2 separate regions of the Homo sapiens genome follow, and region 2 is linked to region 1. Evidence: fine-mapped expression QTL. A gene starts in region 1. The other region holds a variant in brackets. All regions are shown on one strand. Distances are from middle to middle. Region 1 holds the start of POR (cytochrome p450 oxidoreductase). Region 2 overlaps HIP1 (huntingtin interacting protein 1).

The links.
Region 2: its variant is fine-mapped to the expression of POR in whole blood (TOPMed, PIP above 0.99).

What each region holds. Positions count from the first base shown.
Region 1 is chr7:75,908,222-75,923,345 of GRCh38, reverse strand. POR (cytochrome p450 oxidoreductase) reads right to left here and starts at 8,191. Exons shown (of 16, transcript NM_001395413.1): 1 at 8,167-8,191. MIR4651 (microRNA 4651) reads right to left here and starts at 8,149; the gene lies at 8,077-8,149. LOC124901680 (a long non-coding RNA gene) reads right to left here and starts at 10,805. Exons shown (of 2, transcript XR_007060393.1): 1 at 10,607-10,805; 2 at 8,852-9,050. It also overlaps the pseudogene RPL7L1P3. RefSeq lists a silencer at 7,984-8,473 and an enhancer at 8,734-8,783.
Region 2 is chr7:75,610,392-75,625,515 of GRCh38, reverse strand. All of the region lies in intron 1 of HIP1 (huntingtin interacting protein 1), which reads left to right. Among named protein-coding and RNA genes, the nearest start is that of HIP1, 120 kb to the left of the region's middle. RefSeq lists enhancers at 422-1,375, 1,376-2,329, 7,694-8,195, 13,484-14,057. The variant G/A (reference allele first, on the strand shown) is at 7,505.

The DNA.
Region 1 (15,124 bases):
GTCCACTGAGAGGTGGAAAGGGGACAAGAACCATGAGATCTCCTGGAAATGCTTCCTTGGGAAGGCAATTTCATGAATGAGGTCTTCCAAGCAAAAGACACCAAGCTTTCCCAGGTGCTCCTCAATCACTGTGTTGTCAGAGGGATGGTCTTATTCTTGACCTTGGCTTGTCTACGTTTCAAAATGAGTTTCTGGACAGACTTCAGATTTGGAAATCCCCAGGTCACATAAGGTTACATACTATACGCTGCATTTTTAGGTTTAAGTCTTGCAATGGCTCTCCGCACCAGTAAACTCACACCATCAATCCTTTCGACGCGTACAACAAAGGCCAAGGAATGTTTATCTGGCGATTCCAAGGTGTGAGGTTTTACTTCTAGTCGTCTGAGACACACCTTGTCATGTTTCTGCCGCCAGGAATCATGTAGGAATGATTCCAGTCGTTTAAACCTGAGCTCTTTTCCTTCCCTCTGCTCCTCCTTTGCCAAAAGTGCCTACTTTGACTGGGTGGCTTTGAGGCCTTGATAAGCCTTCTGCTTTCAGGAGATTTTCTGGAGCCAAAGGGATTTTTCTTTGCTCCTGCTTTGCCATCTTTCTAGTGTTGCAGCTACTGAACATGCGCAACCCCACCACTGACACAAAATTTTATACCTGGATGGAAAACTAAAGTCCTACCAAAAGTTCCTACTGTACTTTGGAATAATCTTCAGAAGTACAGACCAGGCCAGGCGCAGTGGCTCACGCCTGTAATCCCAGCACTTCGGAAGGCCGAGGCGGGCAGACTGCTTCAGGTCAGGCATTCGAGACCAGCTGGGCAACATGGTGAAACCCCATCTGTACTAAAATTACAAAAAATTAGCCAGGCATGATGGCACACACCTATAATTCCAGCTACTCAGGAGGTTGAGGCACGAGAATTGCTTGAACCCAGGAGGCAGAGGTTGCAGTGAGCCAAGATTGCGCCACTGCACTCCAGCCTGGGCGACAGAGTGACAGGCTCTGTCTCAAAAAAAAAAAAAAAAAAAACTACAGATCAGACCCAATTTTGACATCTGAGCTCAGTCAATATGCAGGAGAAAGCTCAGCAGTAAACTTGGGGGACAGAAGCCATATTTATTCATTCATCCATTCATCCAAGTGCCTACCTTATGCCTGGCATTGTTCTATGCCCCAGCTTACACTCGCAGAAATGATAGGTTCCCTGTTCTCAACTGAATTCACCTTCTAGTCCAACCGTATTGCCACTAGGGAGGGGAGAATTAGACACCTTTTATTAAGTCACTGTTTATCCTTTATGAAAGCAGATGAAGAAGAAAACATGCAATAAGACAGTGACAGTGACCGGGCACAGTGGCTCCTGCCTATTATCCCAGCACTTTGGGAGGCTGAGCTGGGTGGACCACTTAAGGCCAGGAGTTCGAGACTGGCCTGGCCAACATGGTGAAACCCTGTCTCTACTAGAAATACAAAAATTAGCTAGGTGTGGAGGCACGTGCCTGTAGTGCCAGCTACTCGGGAGGCTGAGGCAGGAGAATCACTTGAACCTGACAGGTGGAGGTTGCAGTGAGCCAAATCGTGCCACTGCACTCCAGTCTGGGCGAAGAGAAAGGAGGGGTGACCGAAGCAGGGTTCCAAGATCAACCAGCAATGGTACCATGGACAGATCTTGGAACGTGGTAGGGAGGGGAAGAGAGGGAGAATTATGGGTCAATTACGGGTCAGCGCAGCAGGAAGTGACAAGGGGCTACAGTAAGACCACAGCAGTGGAAAGAGATTTAAAGGGCCGGGCGTGGTGGCTCACGCCTGCTGTAATCCCAGCACTTTGGGAGGCCGAGGCAGGCAGATCGCCTGAGGTCAGGAGTTCGAGACCAGCCTGGCCAACACAGTGAAACCCTGTCTCTACTAAAAATACAAAAATTAGCTGGGCGCGGTGCCGCGCACCTATAATCCCAGCTACTCGGGAAGCTGAGGCAGGAGAATCACTTGAACCTGGGAGGCAGAGGTTGCAGTGAGCTGAGATTGTGTCACTGCACTCTGAACAACAGAGCAAGAATCTGTCTCAAAAAAAAAAAAAAAAAAAGACTAAAAACTTACAGGACTTGGTGGTGGTGGGAGACCCAGAATGGAGAGGAAGGGAAAAGGGACAGGAGTCTTTTGTCCTTGGAGCTTCAGGGCCCAGGAAGTCGGTGAGGCCACTGACAGATAGAGCTCTTGTTGTGGAGGTTTCGGGTAGATGGGCTGGGAGCTTTTGATCACTGCTGTGACGCTGAATGACTCCTGAGTTTGCAAATCACGTTACGTAAGGAACGCGTCCAACGTGTCCATGTTAAGACTGTGTGGTTTCATGAGCAGTCAAAGGGTCTGAAGCCCTTCACCAAAACCAACAGTGGCTTTTCTCCACAAGACCACAAATACCTGACGGAACATTCCTGATGCCAAACTGCACTCTGAATGATGCCGGGCACCACTGGCTAATGCACTCTCCTGTGTATTCAAGAACTGCCATCCCTGTTTGCAGTGTTGAAAACTCAACCCAGGTGACCTATGGTCACTACATATGAGTTCAGAAAGTTCAGAAAGGTGACCGTAGTTCACGTGTTCCTAACCAAACCTGCAAACCTTTGTACAGGCCCGGCTTACCCAATGCACTGATGATGCATGCCCACGAAGATCAAAGTATCACTAGGACACAGTGCTCTAAGAACACCGGCATCACCACCGCAGAGGTGATGTGACGTGAGCTCAGAAACAGGGCTGTAGGAAAAAGTGCCGAAGATAAAAGGAGGGCAGATAAATAGAATGAGTAAGCACTGTTCTTAACTTTCACCTAGAAATAAATTACATCTGTTCCAAGTTAGAGGACACGCCCCACAATGCCCCATCTTCCTCCTCATTACTACATCCAAGTAGACAAAAGGCAACTTTCCCCCTTCTATTCTCCTACCAAATGTCTCCTAAAGAATTCAATTCTTATAAGCTGGACATGGTGGCTCACGCCTGGTAATCCTAGCACTTTGGGAGGCTGAGGCGGGTGGATCACTTGAGGTCAGGAGTTTGAAACCAGCCTGGCCAACACAGTGAAACCTCATCTCTACTAAAAATACAAAAAAAAATTAGCCGGGCGTGATGGCACGCGCCTGTAATCCCAGCTACTTGGGAGGCTGAGGCAGAAGAATTGCTTGAACCTGGAAGGCAGAGGTTGCAGTGAGCCAAGATCACACCACTGCACTCCAGCCTAGGCGAGAGAGTCAGACTCTGTCTCAAAAAAAAAAAAAAAAAAAAAAAAAAAGAAATTCAACTCTTGGAGAACAGTCCACAGCTGACAGCACCACAGTCTGGCCACCAACATATTCTAAGTTAGCCTTGAAACTGACGCATTTCGGGAAATTATGTGTACAATTCTCTCAGCTAGGTACAGATGCTGCACAAAGGAGATCCGAATGCCACACCCTCCAGCACTCCAATGAAAGGACAATTCTTAGATATCCCCCTATCCAAGTCACCTCTTTAACAAGTGAAATAAATAAGCTTCCCACATCAACAGTTTGCTGCACAAGCCACCAGAAGGATCAGGTTCCCCGGGGCTTTGTTCACAACACGTCCAAGCATCAACTGAGTTGCCACACCGACCAGCGTCAGGAGTAACAGTTACTGGGCTGGGCGCGGTGGCTCATGCCTGTAATCCCAGCGTTTTGGGAGGCTGAGATAGGAGGCTCACTTGAGGCCAGGAGTTTGAAACTAGCCTGGGCAACATAGCCAGACCCCACTTCTACAAATAATAAATAAATAAATAAACATACAGAGAGAGAAAAGGAAAGAAAGAAACAAACTGATGAACGTGGCTCCAGTGAACCCAACCAACTGGAGCCACCAATCTGCAAAGAACCATGGTCTGCCCCCATGGAATTCCTCCATCTTCTCTCCCTCTTATATGCATACACACACACACACACACACACACACGCACGCACAGATGCAGACAGGCGTGTGCACACTAATCCCAACAAGAACACAACTGATGTAAACATCTCGCTTGGGGAGGAAAAACTTTTAAGATGTAGAGCTCTAAAACAGTATGATTACAAATTTAGACACAGTAAAAATTTCCCAAATGGTTGTTCATTCACCCAGAGAGGATATTAGGCAGTAAGAGAATATTCAGTACAAGAAAACACTGTCCTGAGCCAGACATGGTGGCCGGTGCCTGTAATCCTAGCTACTCGGGAGGCTGAGGCACAAGAATTGCTTGAACCCAGGAGACAGAGGTTGCAGTGAGCCAAGATCACACCACTGCACTCCAGCCTGGGTGACAGAGTGAGACTCTGTCTAAAAAAAAAAAAAACACACAACACTGATCTGAGCTAGTCACATAGCCCTGACCTTTTAAAACACCTCCCCATCTCTTCCCATGGTTCCTAGGACCATTTCAGACAAGTGCCACCACGCGACCTCAGCCTCATGCAATCTACACCCTACATGCCCCCCAGAGCTGGTGTGCCTGGGTGGGCTCAGAGAACTCCTAGCAATCCTCCAAGACCCAACTCAAACATCACCTCTCCCCTGGAGCCCTGCTGTGGAAACAAACAGCAGGCTCAGCACTAATAAAAGCCTCACCCCATCATCTTGAGAATGAATGCAACACACCGTGCCATTCTTGTTGAATTGTATGCTTGCTTCCCTCCCTGTGAGAGTTCTCAAGTGCCCAAACCAGAGCCTACACATATCCTAAGGCCGGATGTGTGCTTTTTTATGTGTCACGCTACAGGGATCCAAACAGCGCCAAGAAGATGAAGAAGGACCCACTGCTGAAAGGGTTAACATGTTCTGAGCTGTCCCAGAGGCAGGTGGAGTGGGTTCTTTCTCTGACTTTAGTGATGAAGAAACTAAGGCTTGGTATAGGTCAGCGGCCTATGCAAGCAGGTAAGTGACCTCTGACTCAGATGCTTCTCCCACCTGCCCGGCGGGTCCAAATTTCTGCCCAATGCCAGATGACAAAACTGCACAGCAAAACAAGTTGTTGTTTTTTGGGTTTTTTTTTCTGAGACAGAGTCTCACTCTGTCACCCAGGCTGGAGTGCAGCAGCACGATCTCGGCTCACTGCAACCTCCGCTTCCCAGGTTCAAGTGATTCTTCTGCCTCAGCCTCCTGAGTAGTTGGGATTACAGGTGCACACCACCACACCGGCTAATTTTTGTATTTTTAGTAGAGACGGGGTTTCACCACGTTGGCCAGGCTGGTCTCGAACTCCTGACCTCAAGTGATCTGCCTGCCTCGGCCTCCCAAAGTGCTGGGATTACAGGCGTGAGCCACCATGCCCAGTCAATTTTTGTATTTGTATTTTTTTTATAGAGACAGGGATTCGCCGTGTTGCCCAGGCTGGTCTCAAACTCCTGGACTCAAGCAATTCACCCACCTTGGTCTCCCAAAGTGCCGGAATTACAGGCGTGAGCCACTGTTCCCAGCCTAGAATTGGCATTTGAAAGTCTTTTAAGGCTGTAGCCACCTGGGAGGCTGTGTGCTAATGAGCACAGAATCTTTGGCCAGGTGGTGGGTACTCGAAATTCCAGCTACTCAGGAGGCTGAGGCAGAATTCAAGCAAGGAAAATTGCTTGAACCTGGGGGAGGTGGAGGCTGCACTGAGCCCACTGCGCTCCAGCCTGGGCGACAGAGCGAGACTCCATCTCAAAAAAAGAAAAGAAAAGAAAAGAAAATTGTCATTTCTCCATTTCACCTTTTTCTAACTTTAATTTTTAAGTGAGTCTGACATATAACAGAAAGTTAAATCCCAACATGCTCAATTGAGGCCACACACGGTGCTAGTGCCAGAGCTTGACCTCTGTTTCTCTGGCTCCTCCCTAAAGCACAAGGACATCGAAGCTCTTGTAGGGGCGGCCAGCCTCTCTGGAACCATGAAAGGTCCTATAACTTCAAGAGCTTCCATCAGAAAAAAAAAAAAAAAAAAGAAGAAGAAATAAGAAAGCCAGGAACGGTGGCTCACACCTGTAATCTCAGCACTTTAGGAGGTCAAAGCAGGAGGACCACTTGAACCCCAGAATTCGAGACCAGCCTGGGCAACATGGCAAACCAAATCTCTAAAAAACATTTAAAAAATTAGCTGGGTGTGGTGGTGCGTGCCTGTACTCCCAACTACTTGGGAGGCTGAGGAGGGAGGATTGCTTGAATCCTGGAGGTTGAGGCTGCAGTGAGCTATGATTGCGCCACTGCACTCCAGCCTGCACGACAGAGTGAGACCTGTCTCACAAAAAAAAAAAAGTTACTTAAAAGCTAAATTATTTTTAACTTGAAATGTTCCATGGACTTCACGAGTAAATGTTCTGGATTTGCCAAGCAGTTTTGATTTCAATTGGCCTGTCTCCTAATCATACACAGACTTACCTAACACAGATTCTGATTTTCAAGGGGTTAAGGGTGGATCAACCCAGAGTTAACCAACAGCAGGTCCTAAAATTCAGGTATGTCTGGCAGCAAACATCCTCTGTGGCATTTATAAACTCCTACTACCCAGGACGATCCACACCTGATTTACATTGGCTGCGGTCAATGCTGCTGTTTTCAGGAATATCCCTGGGTTGTTTCATTTCAAATCTACCTATTATTTCTTCAAGTGCTAGACCTGAAGAATTTTGGAAAATTAAGATCACTCCTAAGTTTCCACACCACCACGCAACTGGCAGCTAGCATCCCATTCTCTGAAATGCGGATGTTGTACAAATACTTTTTATAATAAGCTATCTGCTCAGCGAAAGTTTCCAACATTAGATGGCATGAAGGTCATAAGTAGCTCAAAAACCACTCTCTTAAAAGGAAAATAAGAACTCCTAAAACAGCCCTCCTCCCAAAAAAAAGGAAGTGGACCTTTCTGGGTTCCCTGGTTTACTAACTGGGCCTTTGGAGCTGTTCTCCTGACCAAGCCAACCCCATAACCACTCAAAAGGGATTTCCGTAGGTAGAACTTGCAAATGGTTAATGAATCAATGCCTTCTCCATAAAGCAAGACCCAAGGAATTACAGCAGTGAACAACGGTGGGGATACTGGATCCCCCAGAGGGTTCCATAAACGTTCTGCTTACAAGGAGGATTAAAGTTCTCGATGCCACTCTCTGGGACCCTGTCTTGATCCTCAGAATCTCAACCCTGTGGGGAGAGCAGGGTGGCTGTCTTACTACCAGACCCACTGATCAGAAAACGGAGGCTCCAGGAGGTATCTTGCTTGCCAAGAATCAAACCAGGGCCACCCAGTCCAGTCCTGTCTCCTTTTGTGCTGGCATCATTCTCCAGCTTGGCCAAGCTCAGAGGCAAGGCAAGGCAAGGCTGCAGCTTTAAGGGTTTAAGAGAGGAGACAGCCACTTTCATTGAAACAGCCCCAAACTCCTTATTAGTGGTCACCAGTTTACACAAGGGTAACTCGTTTTGAAAAACAATACGCAGAAAGTCGAAGTCAATCAAGCTCACTGAAACCTCTACTCTCCTCCCCCTGGCGCCCAAGAGACCTTGAACTCTTACCCAATTGCTCCCCCGATCTAAGGGTGTCCCGGCTCCCCCAGGAGATCCGGGTACCTGTGTTGTGGGGGCCGCCGAGACACCTGACTGCGAGGGGCACTGCCCTCAGGGATGCAGGCCGGGCTGGGGGGCTCCCGTGATCCATCGACTCAGCCCACCTGATGCTGCAGGGTTAGATTCGGGTCCCATGAGCATGCATCGAGCGCCTCTCACGTTAGGTACCCCCAGAATTCGCTGCCTCCCGAGGCCCATTCATCGTACAGATGGGGAAACTGAGGCTCGGAGAGTTAAAGTGGCTTAGCCCGTGGGGGGCGGCGGCGCGGGGACTGGACCCCGAGCCCTGAGATACCGAGCCCTAACCCTCAGCCGAGGGCCTGCCGGGCTCTCTCGGCCCAAGCTGTGGAAAAGTCGACCCTCAGGCCGCCGCGGGAGATCAGCTCTAGGGGAAGGGCGACGCGGAGGAGGGCCGGGGTGGGAGCCATGCCTTCCGCCCGAGCGTCGGGCCAGACGCGCAGTGCCCAGGCCCGAGGGCCCACCCCGACGCAGAGAGCCAGGCGGCCGCGGTGAACTGAGGCGCCCGGCAAACCCCGAGTCTTGGGGCCCGACCTCACCCACCCCGCCGTCGCCGCGAAAGATAGCACTCACCGCTGGCAGCCCGGCTGCTCTCTGCGGGCACCTGGGCAGGGCTCAGGCCCACACCACTGAGGCGCTACCACCGCCTTCGCCGGCCGCGGGGGTGGGGGCGTGGCCATTGGGCCGCCGCCCCGCCCACTCGAGCCGCGCGTGCATTCCCGGAGCCCCGCGCTTCCCCCTGCAAATTTGCGCTCTTGGTACGGCCCGGCCCGGCCACGCCCCCTCGCGGCTCGGCTGGGTCGCCCGGCAGAGAAATGAAAGTGCGTGGTTCCGGGGGTGGCGGAGTCGCCTGGAGACGGCGGCTGCGGCTTCTACAGCTCGGACCCTGCAGGTCACCGGGCCGGCTGCCCACCTTCCCGGGGATCACTGCAGAACTGTGGCTGTGCGCCCGCCGGTCTAGCCTCCTCCTTCGGGCCGCCGCTTGCTTGTGATCGCCACATTGTCTCCTCCACGGCCCTGTTTCCTCACCTGAAATTGGCGAGGCTTCAGGCCCAAGTCGTCTCCCTGGGTTCCCTCCATCCAGCCTGACGGCGGAGGGCGCGCGTTTGTTTTTAGAGACAGGGTCTCGTTCTGTCGCCCAGGCTGGATTGCAGTGGTGCAGTCACAGCTCACTGCAGCCTTCAACTCCTGTGCTCAGGCGATTCTCCCACTTCAGCCTCCCAGTAGCTGGGACTACAGGCGCGCCACCACACCTAGCTAATTTTATTTTATTTTATTTGCAGAGATGCGGTCTCGCTATGATGCCCAGGTTGGTCTCGAACTGGTCTCAAGTGATCCTCCCTCCTCGGCCTCTCAAAGCGCTGCGATTACAGGCGTGAGGTCCCACACGCTGCCTAGAGCTCGCTTTTGAAGGCCGGCCTGTTGGGGGTGGGAAGTGACCAAGCAGGAGGCAAGCCCTGGATGGAAGAGGAGTGGGGGGATACAGAGAGCTTCTGGGGTTTGAAAAGTCTGGCAGCCTTGGTTGGGGAGTGAAGCCCACCTCTGCCTCCTGCTATGGTTTCTACTTTACAGGGTCATGAAGATTAAGTGGTATAACCTTTGTTCCTAAAGGATTTAGAGCACGGCATTACTAAGTGTTCTCATCGCCATTGTTATTATTACTACTACTACTATTATTACTAGCTGTGCTGTGAATTCCTTTTGCAACACTGTGCAACTCACTTCTCTCAGAGCCCCTTCTCCATCTTTTAAAAATAGCCCAGGCACGGTGGCTCACGCCTGTAATCCCAGAACTTTGGTAGGCTGAGGTGGGCGGATCACCTGAGGTCAGGAGTTCGAGACCAGCCTGACCAACATGGCAAAACCCCGTCTCTACTAAAAATACAAAAATTAGCTGGGCATGGTGGCGGGTGCCTGTAATCCCACCTACTGGGGAGACTGAGGCAGGAGACCCACTTGAACCCCGGAGGCAGAGGTTGCAGTGAGCCCAGTTCACACCACTGCACTCCAGTGTGGCCGACAGAGTGACACTCCGTCTCACAAAAAAAAAAAAGTTAATTTATAAAATAATACATAAATATAACATTTATATATTATATAAATGTTATATTTGTTATATTTATATATTATATAAATAATATATATTATATAATAACATATATGTTACTTATTTTTTGAAACAGGGTCTCCCTTTGTCGCTGAGGCTGGGATGCAGCCTCGACCTCCTGGGCTCAGGTGATCCTCCTGCCTCAGCCTCCCTAGTAGCTGGAATTACAGGCATGCGCCACCACAACTGGCTAATTTTTGTATTTTTATTTTTCATTTTAAAGAAAGTTGATTGAAATTTTTTTGTAGAGATGGTGTTTTGCCATGTTTCCCAGGCTGGTCTCAAACTCCAGACCTCAAGCAGTCCTCCCACCTTGGCCTCCCAAAGTGCTGAGATTACAGGTGTGAGCACTGCACCTAGCCTAATTTTTAAATTTTTTGTAGAGACAGAGTCTCGCTATGTTGCCCAACCTGGTCTTGAACTCCTGGCCTCAAGGGATCCCTTGCCTCGGCCTCCCAAAGTGCAGGAATTACAGATGTGAGCCACCATTCCCATCCACTCTTCATCTTTAAAATATTGTGAAAATAGCAAAATCCTATATAAAGAGATTATTACCATGGCCCAGGTGCCAGGTTTCCTATGTCCAGGAACCAGTCCCTCCAACAGGTTGGATGAATGCAGTAGCCCTCAGGGTGGGGCACAATACCTGTCCAAAGAAGGGACTGAACTCCACACTCACCCAGAGAGAGAGCTGTGGAGAAATTCACCCAGATATCTGATACTCTGTGCCATCTTTTCAACACCCTGTTGGACATCTCCCCAGGATGTCCCAGTGAGGCTTCAAATTTGGACTTTGACTCCATGCCCCCTGCTTTTTTTGAAACCAGAACTCCTAAAACACTGAGTCTTCTCTGTCTGCTAATAATATAGCATCACTAAGGAAACATCAGGAAACAGGCATTTTACCTCTTTGGCCTTTTCCCATTGAACCAATAACTGGGTCCTATGGATTCTATCTCCAGAACCTCCTCTTGTCATCTTTTCTGCTGTCCCTGTTCCAGTTGGGGCCACGTGGGTTCACCGTTCACCTGGATGATCTCAGCAGCTTCCTGACTTTTTTGGGGGGGATGGAGTCTCACTGTGTCACCCAGGCTGCAGTGCAGGGGCACCATCTCAGCTCACTGCAACCTCTGCCTCCTGAGTTCAAGCGATTCTCCTGCCTCAGCTGCCTGAGTAGCTGGGATTACAGACTTGTGCCACCACACCCGGCTAATTTTTGTATTTCTAGTAGAGATGGGGTTTCACCATATTGGCCAGGCTGCTCTCGAACTCCTGACCTCAGGTGATCCATCTGCCTTGGCCTCCCAAAGTGCTGGGATTACAGGTGTGAGCCACCGCACCTAGCCGGCTTCCTGACTGTTTATGTCACTTCTCGTTTCTGCTACACCCACTGGCAAGGAAGCCTCTTTTTTTTTTTTTTTTTTTTTTTTTTTTTTTTGAGACAGGGTCTCACTCTGACACCCAGGCTGAAGTGTAGTGGTGAGATCTAGGCTCACTGCAACCTCCACCTCCTGGGTTCAAGCGATTCTCCTGCCTCAGCCTCCTGAGTAGCTGGGATCACAGGTGTGCACCACCACACCTGGCTAATTTTTGTATTTTTAGTAGAGACGGGGTTTTGCCATGTTGGCCAAGCTGGTCTCGAACTCCTGACCTCAGGTGATCCATCCTCCTCAGACTCCCAAAGTGCTGGGATTACAGGCGTGAGCCACCACACCGAGCTGAAAGCTTCTCTTCTTCAGTTACTGTCCTCCTCATTGTCCTACCTTCCTCTCCTTCCCTCCCCACCCCCACCCCGAAAAAACACTCTCGCTGGCCAGCTGGGGGGAAAAAAAGTAGGTTGCATCCACATCTCACATATTACACTAATATAAATTCCAGATAGATAAAATATTTAAATGATTTTTTAAGGGAGAAGGAAAAAAAAAGCCCCCAAAAGTCCATGGGAGAATTGGTGTTAATAATCCCCAAGAGGCATTTCTAAATTATGAAATTATGACATAAACTCCAGAAGCCATAAATGAAAACATTGAGAAATAATCTGGGCTGGGTACAGTGGCTCACGCCTGTCATCCCAGCACTTTGGGAGGCTGAGGTGGGAGGATCGCTAGAGCCCAGGAGTTCGAGATCAGCCTGGCCAACATGACGAAACCCCGTCTCTACTAAAAATACAAAAATTAGCTGAGCATGGTGGCACATGCCTGTAGTCCCAGGGGTGGCTGAGACAGGAGAATGGCTTGAACCCGGGAGGCAGAGGTTGCAGTGAGCTGAGATTGCGCCACTGCACTCCAGCCTGGGTAACAGACTGAGACTCCGTCTCAAAAAAACAAAAACAAACAAACAAGGGGCCGGCAGGGCACGGTGGCTCACACCTGTAATCCCAACACTTTGAGAGGCCGAGGCAGGCAGATTACTTGAGGTCAGGAGTTTGAGACCAGCCTGGCCAACATGGTGAAACCTCGTCTCTTAAAAATACAAAACATTAGCTGGGCGTGGTGGGCGCCTGTAATCCCAGCTAGTCGGGAGGCTGAGGCAGGAGAATCGCTTGAACCTGGGAGGCGGAGTTTGCAGTGAGCCAAGGGTGCACCACTGCACTCCAGCCGGGGTGACAGAGTGAGACTCTTGTCTCAAACAAACAAACAAACAAGGAAGGAAGCTCATTGCTTAAACAGAAAAATCTCTGAGACAAATTGATAAATATGCAAGGTACAGAACAGTAGGTATAGAATGTTACCGTTTGTATGTTCTCAAACAATTGTGGTGGGAAATGAGGGAAGAACATAGATACTAGGTATACATATTTGCCTGTATGTGCATGAAATACCTCCTGAAACAAAAACAAAAACAAAAAAAAAAAAAAGGGAGGGAGGTAAGGTTGGTTGTCTCTGGAGAACTGGGAGGAGGGAGACCAGGGGCAAAGGAATATATTTCACTATATACTACTCTGTATCATTCAAATTTTGTACCTTATGAATGTATTACTTATTCTAAGTCAAATACATAAATACCTTTTTTTGTTTTAAATTAGAGACTGGGTTTTGCTCTGTCGCCCAGGATGGAGTACAGTGGCATGATCATGGCTCACTACAACCTCTGCCTCCTGGGCTCAGGCAATCCTCCCACCTCAGCCTCCGAGTAGCTGGAACTACAGGTGAGCACCACCACACCTGGCTAATTTATTTTTTATTTGTTGTTGAGAGAGGGTCTCGCTATGTGGCTGGTCTTGAACTCCTGGGCTCAAGTGATCCTCCCACCTCGGCCTCTCAAAGCGCTGGGATTCCAGGTGTCAGCCTCTACACCCAGCTCATAAATACTTTTTAAATACCCAGATAATCTTGCTGCTGGCCAAAGAACAAACTTTTACTTGCTCCCCAAATCTAAAGAATAGTGACTATAGACTTGATTTTCTTTTTTTTTAAGGTGGAGTATTGTTCTGTCGCCTAGGCTTGAGTGCAGTGGTGTGATCTTGACTCACTGCAACCTCCTCCTTCTGGGTTCAAGCGATTCTCCTGCCTCAGCCTCCAGAGTAGCTGGGACTGCAGGTGCGCTCCACCACGCCCAGCTAATTTTTTATATTTTTAGTAGAGATGGGGTTTCACCACTTTGGCCAGGCTGGTCTCGAACTCCTGACCTCAAGTGATCCACCTGCCTCGACCTCCCAAAGCGCTGGGATTATAGGCATGAGCCAATGCATCTGGCTGAAAGGATAAATTCTTCTCTTTTTTAGCATTTTCTTCTGGTCATTACAGCCATGCTGGTACATACATGTTTTTCTGGCTGATTTTGACCTGTGACTTTCTTTTCTTCTTCTTCTTTCTTCTTCTCTCTTCTTCTTCTTCCTCCTCCTTCTTCTTCTCTTCCTCTTCCTCCTCTTCCTTCTTCTTTTCTTCTTCTTTCTTCTTCTTTTCTTTTCTCCTTCTTCTCCTCCTTCCTCTTCTCCTCTCCTTCCTCTTTTCCTTCCTCTCCTTCCTCTCTTTCCTCTCCCACCTCTCCCTCCTCTCCCTCTTCCTCTTCTTCCTCTTCCTCCTCTTCTTCTTCCTTCCTCTTCCTCTTCTTCTCTTTCTTCTTTCTCCTCCTCCTCCTTGTTCTTCTTTTCTTTTCTTTTCTTTTCTTTTTTAAATATAGAGACAGGCCAGGTGCGGTGGCTGACGCCTGTAATCCCAACACTTTGGGAGGCCAAGGCGGGCGGATCACTTGAGGTCAGCAGTTCAAGACCAGCCTGGCCAACATGGTGAAACTCGGTCTCTACTAAAAATATAAAAATTAGCTGGGTGTGGTGGTGGGTGCCTGTAATCCCAGCTACTTGGGAGGCTGAGGCAGGAGAATCCCTTGAACCCAGGAGGCGGAGGTTGCAGTGAGCCGAGATCACGCCACTGCACTCCAGCCTGGGATATATAGAGAGAATCCATCTCAAATAAATAAATAAATAAATAAATAAAGAGACAGGTTCTCACTATGATGCCCAGGCTGGTCTCAAACTCCTGGGCTCAAGCAATCCTCCTGCCTCAGCCTCCCATAGCACTGGGATTACAGGCATGAGCCACCATGTCCAGCCCTCTGCCTGATATTTTAGATGTTACCTCTGGAGTCCCACTGATGTGAGTTAGGCCATTTAAACCACAGCTCACCTCTGCTGCCCACACCCTTCCAATATTATTTATACACCTAATTTAATTCCTCTGTTAATCACTTTTATAATTTAAGTAGTAGCCTGGGGCCTTTGTTTTTTGATCCATGAACAGTATCTCTTAATATTGTACGATGAAGCTTCCCTTTCCCTTTGCTCTGTCCCTCTAAAACTTTAGCCGTCTGAACCTCTACATTTTCATTATTGAGCTTGATAACATCTATATTCTAAATATGTTTTCTGGCCAGGTAAGGTGGCTCCCAACACTTTGGGAGACCGAGGTGGGAGGATGGCTTGAGGCCAGGAGTTCAAGACCAGCCTGGGCAACACAGCAAGACCCTATCTCTACAAAAAATTTTTTTAAAAATTAGCCAGGCTGGGCCAGGCACGGTGGCTCATGCCTGTAATCCCAGCACTTTGGGAGGCCGAGGCGGGAGGATCACTTGAGGTCAGGAGATTGAGACCATCCTGGCTAACACAGTGAAACCCTGTCTCTACTAAAAATACAAAAAAATTAGCCGGGCTTGGTGTCAGGCACTTGTAGTCCCAGCTACTCGGGAGGCTGAGGCAAGAGAATGGCATGAACCCGGGAGGCAGAGCTTGCAGTGAGCCAAGATTGCCACTGCACTCCAGCCTGGGCTACAGAGCGAGACTCTGTCTCAAAAAAAAAAAAAATTAGCCAGGCTCGGCATGGTGGTTCATGCCTGTAATCCCAGCACTTTGGGAGGCAGAGGTGGGCATATCACCTGAGGTCAGGAGTTCGAGACCAGCTTGGCCAACATGGCAAAACCCTGTCTCTA
Region 2 (15,124 bases), 300 kb after region 1:
ACCAGCTTCTCAGCTGGTTAGGTTGGTTCTTCCTTCAGGCAGCCATCACCAATCCTTAAGCCTCAGATAGATGCCCACACCCCAGGCCTCCATACAGTCCATACCCACCAATCTCTCTCCTCTCACAAGGTGGACACAATGCCATCACTTTCTCCCCATCTAGACCTCACTCTGAAACCAGGACTAAGTCTTAGTGATCTGTGAGTTGACTTAATGCAACACTTGACCGGGTGCTCAATACACCTACCCAGGAGTTTGAGACCAGCCTGAGCAACAGAGTGAGACCCCATCTCTATAAAAACTTAAACAATGGTGGCTTATATTTATAATCCCAGCACTTTGGGAGGCCAAGGTGGGTGGATCACCTGAGGTCAGGAGTTCGAGACCAGCCTGGCCAACATAATGAAACCCCATCTCTACTAATTGTAAAAATACAAAAATTAGCTGGCCGTGGTGGCAGGTGCCAGTAATTCCCAGCTACTCAGGAGGCAGGCTGAGGCACTGCAGTGAGCCAAGATCACACCACTGCACTCCAGCCTGGGCGACAGAGCAAGACATCTCAAAAAAAAAAAAAAAAAATTAAACAAAAATACACCTATGTACAGACACAGAGGGATGAATATAGATTTGATGGATGAATTCAATGAATGAATAAAATCATAACTATCTGAATGAATGATGGAACTTAAATAAATGGAGATGGTTTTGGCAGGGTAGTTAATCTTGGTTAGAGAGGTGGCATGAAGAGAAGGCATGAGGGTCAAATTAGACAGGACGTATTTGGGAAAGGGAAGGACAGGAATGAATTCTAAGACTGGAAAGGCAAGTGGGGGCCGGATCTCCAGGCCTTGAGTGCCAGGCCAGGGAGTGGAGCAGTTTCCTCGTAAGCCCTGGATGTTTCTGACATGATTGGAGCTGTGCTTTAGAAAGGGGGCTTCCAGTGACGTTGTGGCCACCAGGAGACCAGTAGGCTGTCAGGCCTGGAGGCTTCGGTGGGGCTTACCCTGCCTGGGGCCTGTTGGATGACTCCCCCACGGCCAACACCCCTATACTTCTGAATCTCATAGCTCTTTTTCCCCCCACTCCCCTAAGGAAGGGCTCTTCTTCACCCCAAAGACAGAAGAAGTAGAAGGGAGAGTTTCTGGCAGCTTTGCTTTCTGAGGAAGTCACGTCACAGCCGTGCAGCCGATGATGAAATCCACCTCCGGAATTAGCAACAACCTCTCTTTCCACTTTAGAAAACTGATTAGCAAATCCTCCCCAGCTTGTTCTCACTCCCTGGGTCCAGAGCAGGGAGTATCCATCAGCGCCTCTGCCTGCCTGATTCCGTGGCCTCCAGAGTGTAACCACAGCCTCACCGCTCACTCCATCTCTTTTCTTTGGTTCTGACCTGAGATCAGCGAGGTCTGTGCTTTGGAGGTGTGCGTGTGTTTCTTTTACAAGGTCCAGCTCTGTCTCCCAGGCCGGAGTGCAGTGGCACGATCATAGCTCACTGCAGCGTTGACCTTCAGAGCTCGAGTGATCCTCCTGCCCTCAAGCGATCCTCCTGCCTCAGCCTCCTATGTAGCTATGACTATAGGCATGAGCCACCACACCCTAATTTTCTGATGTTTTGTAGACATAGGGTCTCACTACTCCCCAGGCTGGTCTGAAACTCCTAGGCTGAAGCAGTCCTCCCGCCTCGGCCTCCCAAAGTGCTGGGATTACAAGCGTGAGCCACTGTGCCCAGCCTCAAACACTTTACAAGCCAGAAAGGCAATGAGGAGGAGGAGAAGAGTTGGTTTGAGGACAAGGGAGAGGCTCTGGGGAGAACTGGGCTGGAGAAGAGGAGGCGGAGGCTGGCTTAGTTCCTTTCTCCAAGTGCCACTTGCCTGGTCCTTGAGTGCAGCTCCAGGCATCCTGTGCATTCCTCAAATCCTGAGCTCTCAGCCCTGACCTCGCTTCCTGTTTCACTGTGAAGAGAGACGATCTGTGAAAACTGGCACTGCCCTCACCCACATGTCTGCCTCCGTCTGTGTCTGTACTGTGGGATCTGGCCCAGCCTGCCCTCCTGCTGGGCACCAGGCCCCATTCCCATCCCTGCCACTCTCCCGTCCTCTCCTCATGCGCATGCAAATGCATTATTATGTCTCCCACTGGAAACAAGAAAACCTTGAGCCCACCTCCTCCCAGCGGCTGCCCTCTCTCTCTGTCCCTCTTCACAGCAGAAACCCTGTAGAGCACTCATTGCCTCCAGCTCCCAGCCTCCCCTTTCTCTCCTCGACCTACCATCAGAGGGGGAGAGCCTTTTTTTTTTTTTTTTTTTGCTTTTTTTTTTTGAGATGGAGTCCCGCTCTGTTGCCCAGGCTGGAGTGCAGAGGCACAATCTCAGCTCATTGCAACTTCCGTCTCCCAGGTTCCAGCGATTCTCCTGCCTCAGCCTCCCGAGTAGCTGGGATTACAGGCACGCACCACCACGCCTGGCTAAATTTTTTATTTTTATTAGAGACAGGCTTTCACCATGTTGGTCAGGCTGGTCTCAAACTCCTGACCTCAGGTGATCTGCCCGCCTTAGCTTCCCAAAGTGCTAGGATTACAGGCGTGAGCCACCACACCCAGCCAATTTCCTTTAAAAAATATATAGATAGATAGATAGATAGATAGATAGATAGATAGATAGATAGATAATTATTTATTTGACAATCTTGCTCTGTTGCCCAGGCTGGAGTGCAGTAACGCAGTCATAGCTCACTACAGCCTCCAACTCCTGGGCTCAAAGTGTCCTCTTGCCTCAGCCTCCCAAAGCATTGGGATTACAGGCACCAGCCACCATGCCCGGTCAAAATGCATTTCTTCATATGGCTTCCAGGGTGCCACAGTCTCCTGGCTTCCCCCAACCTCACAGGCTGTTTCTTTTCTATCTCCATCACTGATTCCCTCCTATCCTTATTTATTTATTTAGAGACCAGGTTTTAAGACTTGCAATGTTTGTATTTTTGGTAGAGACGGGGTTTCACTGTGTTGCCCAGGCTGGTCTCGAACTCCTGGGCTCAAGCAATCCTCCTTCCTTGGACTCCCAAAGTGCTGGGATTACAGGCATGAGCCACTGCCCGTACCTGGCCTCCTGTCTCTCCTGAACGTCGGGGTGTCCTCAGGCTGTCCCCAGACATCTCATCTGCACTCACTCCTTGGTGCTCTTATCCACTCTTACATTCCGTCCAAATTTATAAATGTAGCTCAGACCTGTTCTTTTTTTTTTTGAGACAGAGTCTCACTCTATCACCCAGGCTAGAGTGCAGTGGCATGATCTCAGCTCACTGCAGCCTTCACCTCCTGAGTTCAAGCAATTCTTCTGCCTTAGCCTCCCGAGTCAGCTGGGTGGCGTGCACCACCACATCTGGCTAATTTTTGTATTTTTAGTAGAGACAGGGTTTCATCATGTTGGCCAGGCTGGTCTCGAACTGGCCTCAAGAGGTCTGCCCACCTCGGCCTCCCAAAGTGCTGGGATTACAGGTGTGAGCCACCACACCTGGCCTAGCTTAGACCTTTTCTGAACTCCAGATGCGGCACAGCCCACTGCTCACCCACAGCTCCACTGGGATACCTGGTGGGTGTGTCATGTCTAACCTAGCCCCAAACCAACTCTCCCATGGGTCCCCCCAGCTTGTTAATGGCAGCTCAGTCCCTCTAGTTGCTCAGGCAAATCATCACGATGTTCTCCTTGACTCCTTCCTTCCTCACACCCCAGATCCAGAACATCAGATAATCCCATCAGCTCTAGCTTCAAAATAAATTCAGAGACCGACCACGTCTCGACACCTCCTCTGCCTCCACCATCAATTCTGTCCTGATTGAAGGCAGCAGAGTCTTCACTGTGGTCCCTGCAGCCACACTGGTCCCTGCAGTCTGTTCTCAGCACAGCAGCCAGAGGGATCCTATTGAATCAGATCGTTTTACCGCTTTGCTCAAAACCTTCCAGGGAGGCCAGGCACACTGGCTCACCTGTTAATCTCAGCAATTTAGGAGGCCAAGGCAGGAGGATCGCTTGGGGCCAGGAGTTCAAGACCAACCTGGGCAACATGGCAAGACCCCGTCTTTACCAAAAACCGCAAAAAACAAAACCACTTCCAGTGGCCCCAGTCTTATGTGGAACAAAGGTCAGTCCTCACCATGAGCCACGAGGCCTCTAGGGATTTGGCCCCTCCTGCCCCTGACTTCCGGCTCTAGCCATACTTCCTCGCGCCTGCCAGCTGGGCTTCTGCTCGTGTGCCTAGAACTCTTCCCCCAGGTGTGTACCAGGCTCACTTCCTCTTCATGTTATTTATTTTTTGAGACAGGGTCTCACTCTGCTGCCCAGGCTAGAGTGCAGTGGCCCTATCGTAGCTCACTGCAGCCTCAAACTCCTGGGCTCAAGCCATCCTCCCACCTCTGCCACCAAGCCAGGCTAATTTTTTCATTTTAAATTTTTTTGTAGAGACAGGATCTTGCTATGTCACCCTGACTGTTCTCAAGCTCCTGGTCTCAAGCAGTCCTGCCTCCTCGGCCTCCCAAAGTGCTGAGATTTTAGGTGTGAGCCACCACGCCAGCCTCTCGTCACTTTAAAGTCTGTATCCCTCTGTCACCTCAGTACAGCCTTTCTCAGTGACCCTTTGGGAGGTTATAATGCTGCCTAGAACACTCCAGCCCTATCCTTGCCCTTATCTTTCTTCCATAGCACCTCTCGCCATCCGATTTGTTTACTGCTTGTCTCCCCTGCTAAAATATAAGCTCCGTGAGGACAGAGATCGTCATCTCTGTTCCTTGCTGTTTTATTTTGGTTTTGTTTATTTATTTGTTTGTTTGTTTGTTTTTGAGACAGAGCCTCACTCTTTCACCCAGGCTGGAGTGCAATGGTGCTATCTCAGCTCGCTGCAACCTCTGCCTCCCAGGCTCAAGCAATTCTTGTTCCTCAGCTTCCCGAGTAGCTGGGACTACAGGCATGCACCACCACCCCTGGCTAATTTTTGTATTTTCAGTAGAGACTGGTTTCACCATGTTGGCCAGGCTGGTCTCGAACTTCTGACCTCAAGTGACCCACCCACCTTGGCCTCCCAAAGTGATGGGATTACAGGCATGAGCCATTGTGCCTGGCCTTTTTTTTTTTTTTTTTTAAAGACATGGTCTTGCTCTGTTGCCCAGGCTGGTGTACAGTGGCGCAATATTGGCTCACTGCAACTTCTGCCTCCTGAGCTCAGGTGATCCTCCCACCTCAGCCTCCCAAGTAGCTGGAACTATAAGCATGCACCACCACGCCTGGATAATTTCTTGTATTTTTGTAGAGACAGGGTTTCACCATGTTGCCCCCAGCTGGTCTTGAACTCCTGGGCTCAAACAATCCACCCACCTTGGCCTCCCAAAGCGCTGGGATTACAGGCATGAGCCACCGCACCCTCACTGTATTTCTAGAGTAGTGCCAGGCATATGATAGGCCTTCCAGAAATATATGTCGAATGAATGAGTGAATATGAAAACAATTCAGAGCAGTTGTTCCCTGAGTTTAGGGAAGACCAGAGAGAGATCTGGGTGGCCCCTAAGAATCTGTTACCCGTGATCACGGTGAAACAGAAATAGATGACAGAGAGCAGGGGTGGTATCTTTTAGAAGAAAATAGGTGACCATCTATACTGGGCCAGTTCTATAGTTAGCAAGATGACATGGGAGGAGAGCTATTTTTCTGAGCTTTATGTAACAGATGTGGTTTTGTATAAATCACACTTCTGTAAACTGAATCCTCTCTTAAATGTACTAACGGAGATTGCTATTTAAGGGTATCGAATGCCAATGTCTTCTGTGAAATGAATAATAATCTCCTAATTTGGCCTTAGTGGCAATTCACATTTTCCAGAAAAAAATTTACTTACATCAAGGTATACTTGTCTGAGCTGAGAAACTGACTTCATTCTTCACATTTCCACCATCTTTATTCTTTGCTCTCATTCTTCCTTTTTGTTACTGTTTTTCTTCTCTTTTTTTTTTTTTTTTGAGACAAAGTCTTGCTCTGTCGCCCAGGCTGGAGTGATCTCGGCTCACTGCAACCTCTGCCTTCTGGGTTTAAGCAATCCTCCTGCCTCAGACTCCCGAGTAGCTGGGATTACAGCAGGCACACGCCACCACACCTGGCTAATTTTTGTATTTTTAGTAGAGATGGGGTTTCACCATGTTGGCCAGGCTGGTCTCAAACTCTTGACCTCAAGTGATCCGCCCACCTGGGCTTCCCAAAGTGCTGGGATTACAGGCATGAGCCACTGTGCCCGGCCACTGTTTTTACTTTTAGCTGAATTTTTTCTTAGACTCTGACATACAATGTTCTTCTGTAACATCACCTGAATTAACAGTGCCATGGGCCCTTCCGAGCCCAAATGAGTCCAATTTGGGGGTGGAGCAAAGGAATCTAGGGGTGTGTGTACAAACTCGGGGTACAGGATTCTCAGATGATATCCCGGCCTAGCCAAGTCTGGGAACCACTGACCAAAGGCTTTCTTTCTACACACAGCGATTCCTGCAGAAATAGAACAAAAGGTGGGATGTCAAGGATGTTGGGTGGGAGGCCAAGGTGGGAGGCTCACTGGAGCCCAGGAGGTTGAGACCAGCCTGGGCAGCATAGTGAAACCCCATCTCTACAAAAAAACTTGGAAGAAAAAAAAAAGGATGTGCTCAAGGGAGAGGCATCAGGTTTTCTAGTGCTGGGATGTGGCTGGGGCTTGGCTCATTCACTTGACAGAAAGGTCACTTCTAGAAATTGGACACTGCAAGAGACCCAGAGCTGGATAAGGGATGGTTCCCGTGCTGGGGGATCTCCTGTAAGTCAGGCATCACCCACCTTGAGTCTTCAGATCATTGGAGATAAGTAGCAGTATATTAATAAAAGAGAAGAGACAAAACTAACCTCACTGTTAGAAAGCTGGGGAAACAGCTGGGTGCGGTGGCTCATGCCTGTAATCCCGGCACTTTGGGAGACTGAGGAGGGCAGGTCACCTGGGGTCAGGAGTTCAAGACCAGCCTGGCCAACATGGTGAAACCCCCATCTCTACTGAAAATACAAAAATTAGCCACGTGTGGTAGCTCACACCTGTAATCCCAGCACTTTGGGAGGCTGAGGCAGATGAAACACTTGAGGTCAGGAGTTTGAGACCAGCTTGACCAACATGGTGAAACCCTGTTTCTACTAAAAATATAAAATTAGCCAGAGTTGGTGGCACGTGCCTGTAATCCCAGCCACTCGGGAGGCTAAGGTGTGAGAATCGCTTGAACCCAGGAGGTGGAGGTAGGTAGCAGTGAGCCGAGATCACACTACTGCACTCCAGCCTGGGTGACAGTGAAACTGTGTCTCAAGAAAAAAAATGAAAGAAAGAAAGCTGGGGCAACGAGAGGGTGGTAGAGGGCATGAAGAGAGGAAGTTGGGCAATGCTGGTGGTTTGTGGGGAGGGCGCAGCCCAGGGTTTCCCACTCTTGCTGACAAGCTGCCTATCCGGAAGGCTTCCCCCGG[G/A]AGCTCTGGCCAGGGCCATTACGAAAGGCCACTCCAGTCTGGCTCTGTGAATAGTGAAAGATCAGGATATGTCTGGTGGATTTACCCAAGGCTGCGCTTTCTAGGGAGGGTGACTTGCCCAACCAGTGACTATGATGAATGGGGAATGAGCCCTCTGGGTGCAATACCTGCCAGCGTGACTTTGCAGTTTGGGGTGCTAGGGAAGCAGAACCAAGGTTTCCTCCATGACGACAGGAGCAGCAGCCTTACAAGGGAGGAGCCCCTTTCGAAGCCACAGCTCCCTGTGGGTGAGAGGAGGGCATATGGGCCCGCTTCTCCTTTTCCCCAAGGCCTGGTGTCCGAGTCTCTTACCCTGTGCCCTACATTCCAGGCCCCTTTGAAAGCCTAAGTGGGCACCCCGAAGGTCATCACAGATGTTCTCTTATGGAGGGAGGCAGCTGGCATACGGGGAAAAGGAGACCAAGAAACCAAGACTCACGCAAGGAACCAGGCTGAGGCTGGGCGCGGTGGGTCACGCCTGTAATCCCAGCACTTTGGGAGGCCGCTGCAGGAGGATGGCTTGAGGCCAGGAGTTCGAGACCAGCCTGGGCAACACAGGGAGATCCTCACCTCTACAAATAATAAAAAATTAGTGGCTGGGTGCGGTGGCTCACGCTTGTAATCCCAGCACTTTGGGAAGCCGAGGCAGGAGGATCACCTGAGGTCAGGAGTTCAAGACCAGCCTGGTCAACATGGTGAAACCCCGTCTCTACTAAAAACTACAAAACAAATTAGCCGGGAGTGATGGTGGGTGCCTGTAATCGCAGCGACTTGGCAGGCTGAGACAAGGGAATCGCTTGAGCCGGGGAGGCGGAGGTTGCAGTGAGCTGAGATCACGCCATTGCACTCCAGCCAGGTGACAGAGCAAAACTCCATCTCAAAAAAAAAAAAAAAAAAAATTAGCTGGGTGTGGTGGCATGCACCTGTGCTCCCAACTATTTTGGGAGGCTGAGGTGGGAGGATTGCTTGAGCCCAGGAGGTCGAGGCTGCAATGAGCCATGATTGCACCACTGCACTCCAACCTGGGCAACAGAGCAAGACCTTGTCCAAACAAAAAAAAATAGTCATCTAAATGTAGTTACTGTTGTTCCCAGCATCAGTTAGATCAATCACTGTGCCTGACATATACCTCCCTGGTAAACATGAGGAGGAGGACACAGGCTCAGGCACCAGCATGCCTTACCCCAAAGTGATGGCCAGTAATCAGCCTCTGTATGTGTGGACATCCACCCTCATAGGCTGCCCTGCCTAGTCCAGGGGCCAGCAAACATTTTCTGCAAAGGGCCAGATGGTAAATGTTTTTGGCTTTGTGGCTTCCTGCTGCTACTATTTCTTCCTCCTCCTCGTCCTCCTCCTCTTCCTCCTCCTCCTCCTCCTCCTCCTCCTCCCCACCCTTAAAAAGCCAGGCATGGTGGCTAGCGCCGGTAATTCCAGCACTTTGGGAGGCTAAGGTGGGAGGATCGCTAGAAGCCAGGAGCTCAAGACCAGCCTGGGCAACAAAGTGAGACCCGGTCTCTACAAAAAAAAATTTTTTAATTAGCCTGGCGTGGTGGTGCGCACCTGTAGGCCCACCTACTTGGGAGGTGGAGGTGGGACGATTGCATGAACCCAGGAGTTCAAGGCTGTAGTGAGCTATGATCGTACCACTACACTGCAGCCTGGGCAACAGAGCAAGACTCTGTCCCTAAACAAGAACACAAAAACCAGTCCTAGCTCACAGGCCATGCACAAGCAGGCTGAGGCCAGGTTTGGCTGGTGGGCGGTGGTTTGGACCCCTAGCAGCCTGTCCTTTCTCATTCTTGTCTAGGACGATGTTACGAGATACTTTGTTTTTGTTTTTGTTTTCTTTTCTTTTCTTATCTTTTCTTTTTTTTTTTTTTTTTTTTTGAGACAGAGTCTTACTCTGTCGCCCAGGCTGGAGTGCAGTGGTGTGATCTCAGCTCACTGCAACCTCCACATCCCAGGTTCAAGCGATTCTCCTGCCTCAGCCTGCTGAGTAGCTGGGACTACAGGTGCGCACCATCACACCCAGCTAATTTTTGTATTTTTAGTAGAGACGAGGTTTCATCATATTGACCATGCTGGTCTCAAATTCCTGACCTCAGGTGATCCGCCTGCCTCAGCCTCCCAAAGTGCTGGGACTACAGGCATGAGCCACCGCGCCTGGCCATTTTTTGTTTGTTTTTGTTTTTGTTTTTTGAGACAGAGTCTCGCTGTGTCACCCAGGCTGGAGTGTAGTGGCACAATCTCGGCTCAACTGCAACCTCCACCTCCTGGGCTCAATCGATCCTCCACCTCAATCTCCTAAAGTGTTGGGATTACAGGCATAAGCACAGTCAGAGGAGAAGGAAGGAAAGGACAGGAAGGAGTAGTACAGTCTTTGTCCCTTTGAGGACAAGATCCACCTTTTTTAAGGGTGGGGAGTCAGGGTCTCCATCTGTCATTCATGATAGAGTGCAGTGGCACAGTCATAGCTCACTGCAGCCTCCAACTCCTGGGCTCAAGCAATCCTCCTGCCTCAGCCTCCCAAGTAGCCACCACTACAGATATACCACCATCCCCAGCTAAATTTTCATTTTTTGTAGAGATGGGGTCTTACCATGTTGCCCAGGCTGGTCTTGAACTCCAGGCCTCAAGTGATCCTCCTGCCTCGGCCTCTCAAAGTGCTGGGATTCCAGGCATGAGCTGCCACACCTGGCCACAGGGTCCACTTCCTATCATCTGTGTGCTCTCTCACAGCCCCTGGTGTGGTGCCCTGGATCCTGGCAGCCATGTGCAGGTGCATGGCTGTCCACAACTGTCTGTGAAAGGCCCTCTTGTGGTTGTATGGCAAAGAGCCTTACTATCTGTGTGGCAGCCTTGCCCTGCGTGTAGTAGGTATTCAGTAAAATCAGTTTCTCAGGCCAGCGTGGTGGCTCATGCCTGTAATCCCAGCACTTTGGGAGGCCGAGGCAGGTGGATCACTTGAGGTCAGGAGTTCGAGACAAGACAGGCCAACATGGTGAAACCCCGTCTCCACTAAAAATACAAAAATTAGCCAGGCGGGGTGGTGGGTGCCTGTAATCCCAGCTATCAGGAGGCTGAGGCAGGAGAATCACTTGAACCCGGGAGGCAGAGGTTGCAATGCGCCGAGATCGCGCCACTGCACTCCAGCCTGGGTGACAGAGTGAGACTCCGTCTCAGAAAAAGAAAAAAAAATCAGTTTCTCAGTGTTTTTTATCTTTTTTTTTCCTGTGACAAAATACATATAACATGAAATTCGCTATTGTAACAAATTCAAGTGTATAATTAAGCAACATCTGGCACATTCGCTATGTCGTGCAACCGACATGACTGTTTAATTTCAGAACATTTTCACTATCCGTAAAGGAAACCCTGTTCCCATTAAGCAATCACTCCCCACCCCTCTCCTACCAGGCCCCAGTGGCCACCAGTCAGCTCTCTGTCTCTATGGATCTGCCCATTCTGAGCACTTCATACAAATAGAATCACACATTGTGTCCCATTTCATGTCTGGTTTCTTTCATGTAGCATGTTTTGGAGGCTTATCTACCTTGTAACTGTGTGTGTGTGTGTGTGTCTATGTGTGTGTGTGGTGGTAAAATATACATACCATAAAATTCACCATTTTAGGGCCCAGCGCATGGCTCATGCCTGTAGTCCCAGCACTTTGGGAGGCTGGGACAGCCAAAGCGCTTGAGCCCAGGAGTTTCAGACCAGCCTGAGCAACATAGTAAGACCCCGTCTCTACAAAAATTAGCTGGGTGTGGTGGCATGTGCCTATAATCCCAGCTACTCAGGAGGCTGAGGCAGGAGGATCACTTGAGGCCAGAAGTTTGAGACCTGCCTAGGCAACACAGTGAACCCCATTTCTACAAAGGAATTTAAAAATTAGCCAGGTGTGGTGGCATACACCTGTCGTCTCAGCTATCTGGGAGGCTGAGATGGGAGGATTGCTTGAACCCAGGAGGTTAAGGTTGTAGTGAGCCATGTTTGCACCATTGTACTCCAGCCTGGGCAACAGAGGGAGACCCTGCCTAGGCAACATAGCAAACCCCATCTCTACAAAAGAATTTAAAAATTAGCCAGGTGTGGTGGCATGCACCTGTCGTCTCAGCTGCCTGGGAGGCTGAGATGGGAGATTGCTCGAATCCAGGAGGTTGAGGCTGTAGTGAGCCACGTTTGCACCACTGTACTCCAGCCTGGGCAACAGAAGGTGAGGCAGACAGTAGGGTGGAGGACGTTGGTTGGCAACAGGTTTGTGTTGGACCCTGGCAGTTACAGAAGGCAGCACGGTGTGGGAGAGGAGGCGCTCTCAGATGGACCTGGGTTTGAATTCTGGCTCCACTTCTTGCTGGCTGTACTACTTGCAAGTAGCTTGTCTTGGAAAATAGGGGCCCAGATTTCTTGCCCTCTAGGGACCAAAGGCGGATGAGAAGTAAATTACCAGTGCAGTGCCTGGGAGGAGGAAGAGGCCCAAGTGAGGGTCAGTGGCTCCTGCTACTACCACTAATCTGGTGACAATGGCTCTATGATGATTATTATTATTTTTGATCAAGAGAAGAATTAAAAAGACCCTGATGTTGGGCAGCAAATTCCAAGTGTTGTAGCTAGGACCAGAGCAGTCTCACGGAGCACAGAAGGCTCCCCACGGTGGGGACGCTCTGTTTGGCTTTCATGCCTCACCTGTCCCTCTACTCTCCCAGGCTCACCTGATCTCCATTTGGTTCTGTACTCTCCCTGTCATCCTCACTCAGGTGGTAGGTCCCAGCTGTTAACCTGAGCTATTGCCACCTGTACTGCAACCTGCCATGGCCAATTTTCTTTTCTTTCTTTCTAGTTTTCTTTTCTTTCTTTTGTGTGCATGTGTGTGTGTGTGTGTGTGTGACCCAAGTTGGAGTGGTGCAGTGGTATGATCATAGCTCACTGCAACCTTGAACTTCTGGGCTCAAGCCATCCTCCCACCTCAGTCTCCTGAGTAGCTGGGATTACAGGCACCTGCCACCATGCCCAGCTAATTTTTGTATTTTTAGTAGAGACGGAGTTTCACCATGTTGGCCAGGCTTGTCTTGAACTCCTGGCCTCAAGTGATCTGCCTGCCTCGGCCTCTCAAAGTACTGGGATTACAGCCTCTTTTTAAAAAAATTATTATTATTATTATTTGAGATGGAGTTTCACTCTTGTTGCCCAGGCTGGAGTGCAATGGCACGATCTCAGCTCACTGCAACCTCCATCTCCTGGGTTCAAGCGATTCTCCTGCCTCAGCCTCCTGAGTAGCTGGAATTACAGGCGCCCACCACCAGGCCTGGCTAATTTTTGTATTTTTAGTAGAGATAGGGTTTCACCATGTTGGTCAGGCTGGTCTTGAACTCCTGACCTCAGGTGATCCACCCGCCTCGGCCTCCCAAAGTTCAGGGATTACGGGCATGAGCCACCGCGCCCAGCCTTTATTTTATTTTTTTTGTGAGACAGAGTTTCTCTCGTCACCCAGGCTGGAGTGCAGTGGCGCGAATTCGGCTCACTGCAACCTCCACCTCGTGGGTTCAAGTGATTCTCCTGCCTCAGCCTCCTGAGTAGCTGGGACTACAGGTACGCGCCACCACCCCTGGCTAATTTTGTATTTTTAGTAGAGATGGGATTTCACCATGTCGGCCAGGCTGGTCTGGAGCTCCTGACTTTGGGTGATCCGCCCACCTCCGCCTCCCAAAGTGCTGGGATTACAGGTGGAGCCACCGTGCCCGGCCTCCTCTGCCTTTGTTTTGCCCTTCTCCTTTCCCATCTGTGCTGCCTGTTCTCAGGTTTTCCTTCTCTGGCCCCTTGCCTGGGGACCTGCCACCCCCACCCGGGGCACATCCCCGTGCCTGCTCCTGCCGTGGGACCTTTGTGAGCCAGCCTGGCCTTGGCAGCCCGAGGGCTGGGCTTCTGCCAAGAGCTGTGTGTATGTGACCTGACAGTGTCCAACTGGGCCCACAGGCCAGGCCCAGGCCCAGCTCCCCACACAAGCAAGGCCAGAGGGTTTCCCATTGGCCACTGCCTGGCTGGGCTGTCCCAGGCGAGCGGAGGATGGGGAGTGCTGGGGAGGGAGGAAGAGAGGCTGGGAGAAAGGCGCCCTTCCTGCGGTGCCTGCTGGTAATTGGCTCTCCGGAACCAGCCGGGGACACGAGGGCCTGCTGGGTCAGGAAGTGGTGGACAATGCCACCCTTTCAGGGGAGACACGGCTTGGTCTTAGGTCCTGTGTGACTCCAGGGAAGTCCAGAGAACAGCCTGTTCTCAGATGATGTTCCCTAACCCAGAGCCCCCTCCAGAGGTGAGACACCCAGCCCCGCACTGCCCGCCCTTGGTGCTGGGAGGGGCCCCCAGGCATTGGCCTGTGGCGGGGCGGGAACAGTTCAGAACCAAATGATGTCCTTCAGAGAGCCTGGGGCCGGGAGGGGAAGGGAGTAGATTTTCTCAAGAGACTGTGAATCACATACCTGGGACTTTTTTTTTTCTTTTTTTTTTTTTTTGAGACAGAGTCTCACTCTGTCACCCAGGCTGGAGTGCAGTGGCACCATCTCAGCTCACTGCAGCCTCCGCCTCCCCAGTTCAAGTGATTCTCCTGCCTCAGCCTCCCAAGTGGCTGGGACTACAGGCACGCACCACCATGTCTGGCTACTTTTTGTATTTTTGGTAGAGACAAGGTTTTGCCATTTTGGCCAGGCTGGTCTTGAACTCCGAACCTCAAGTAATCCGCCCATCTCAGCCTCCCAAAGTGCTGAGATTACAGGTATGAGCCACCGCACCTGGCGTACCTGGGACTCTTTCTAAAAAAATTTTATAGAACAGGCGCAGTTCAAGACCAGCCTAGCCAACATGGTAAAACCCTGTCTCTACTAAAAAAAAAAATACAAAATACAAAAATTAGCTGGACATGGTGGCGGGCACCTGTAATCCCAGCTACTGGGGAAGCTGAGGTAGGAGAATCACTTGAACCTGAGAGGCAGAGGTTGCAGTGAGCCAAGCTCACACCACTGCACTCCAGCTTGGGAGACAAATGGAGTGAAACTCCCATCTCAAAAAAAAAAGTATATATATATTTTATATAAATAATATATAAAATTTTAATATATATAAATATATATATATATTTTTTAATAGTGATGGGATCTTACCATGTTGCCCAGGCTGGTCTTGAACTCCTGGTCTCAAGAGATCCTCCTGCCTCGGCCTCTCAAAGTGCTGGGATTACAGGCATGAGCCACCATGCCTGGCCTCTACCTGGTACACTTTAGAGGCGAGAGTGCTGGGAAGCAGCCAGTCCTGATGACTTATGGACTTATGACCTGCCTTCGCGACTGTGGGCCTACAGGAAAGGAGAAGGCAGGGTCCTTGTGCTTGGGATTCTAGTCTGGGTAGGGAGGGAAGGTAATACTCAGTGTCAAACGTATTAAGAGAAATAGGAATTCAAAAAAAGAGAAAAAAAAGGCCAGGTGCGGTGGCTCACAACTGTTATCTCAGTACTTTGGGAGGCTGTTGGGGGAGGGTCACTTGAGCCTGAGTTCAAGACCAGCCTGGGCAACACAGGGAGACCCCATCTCTACA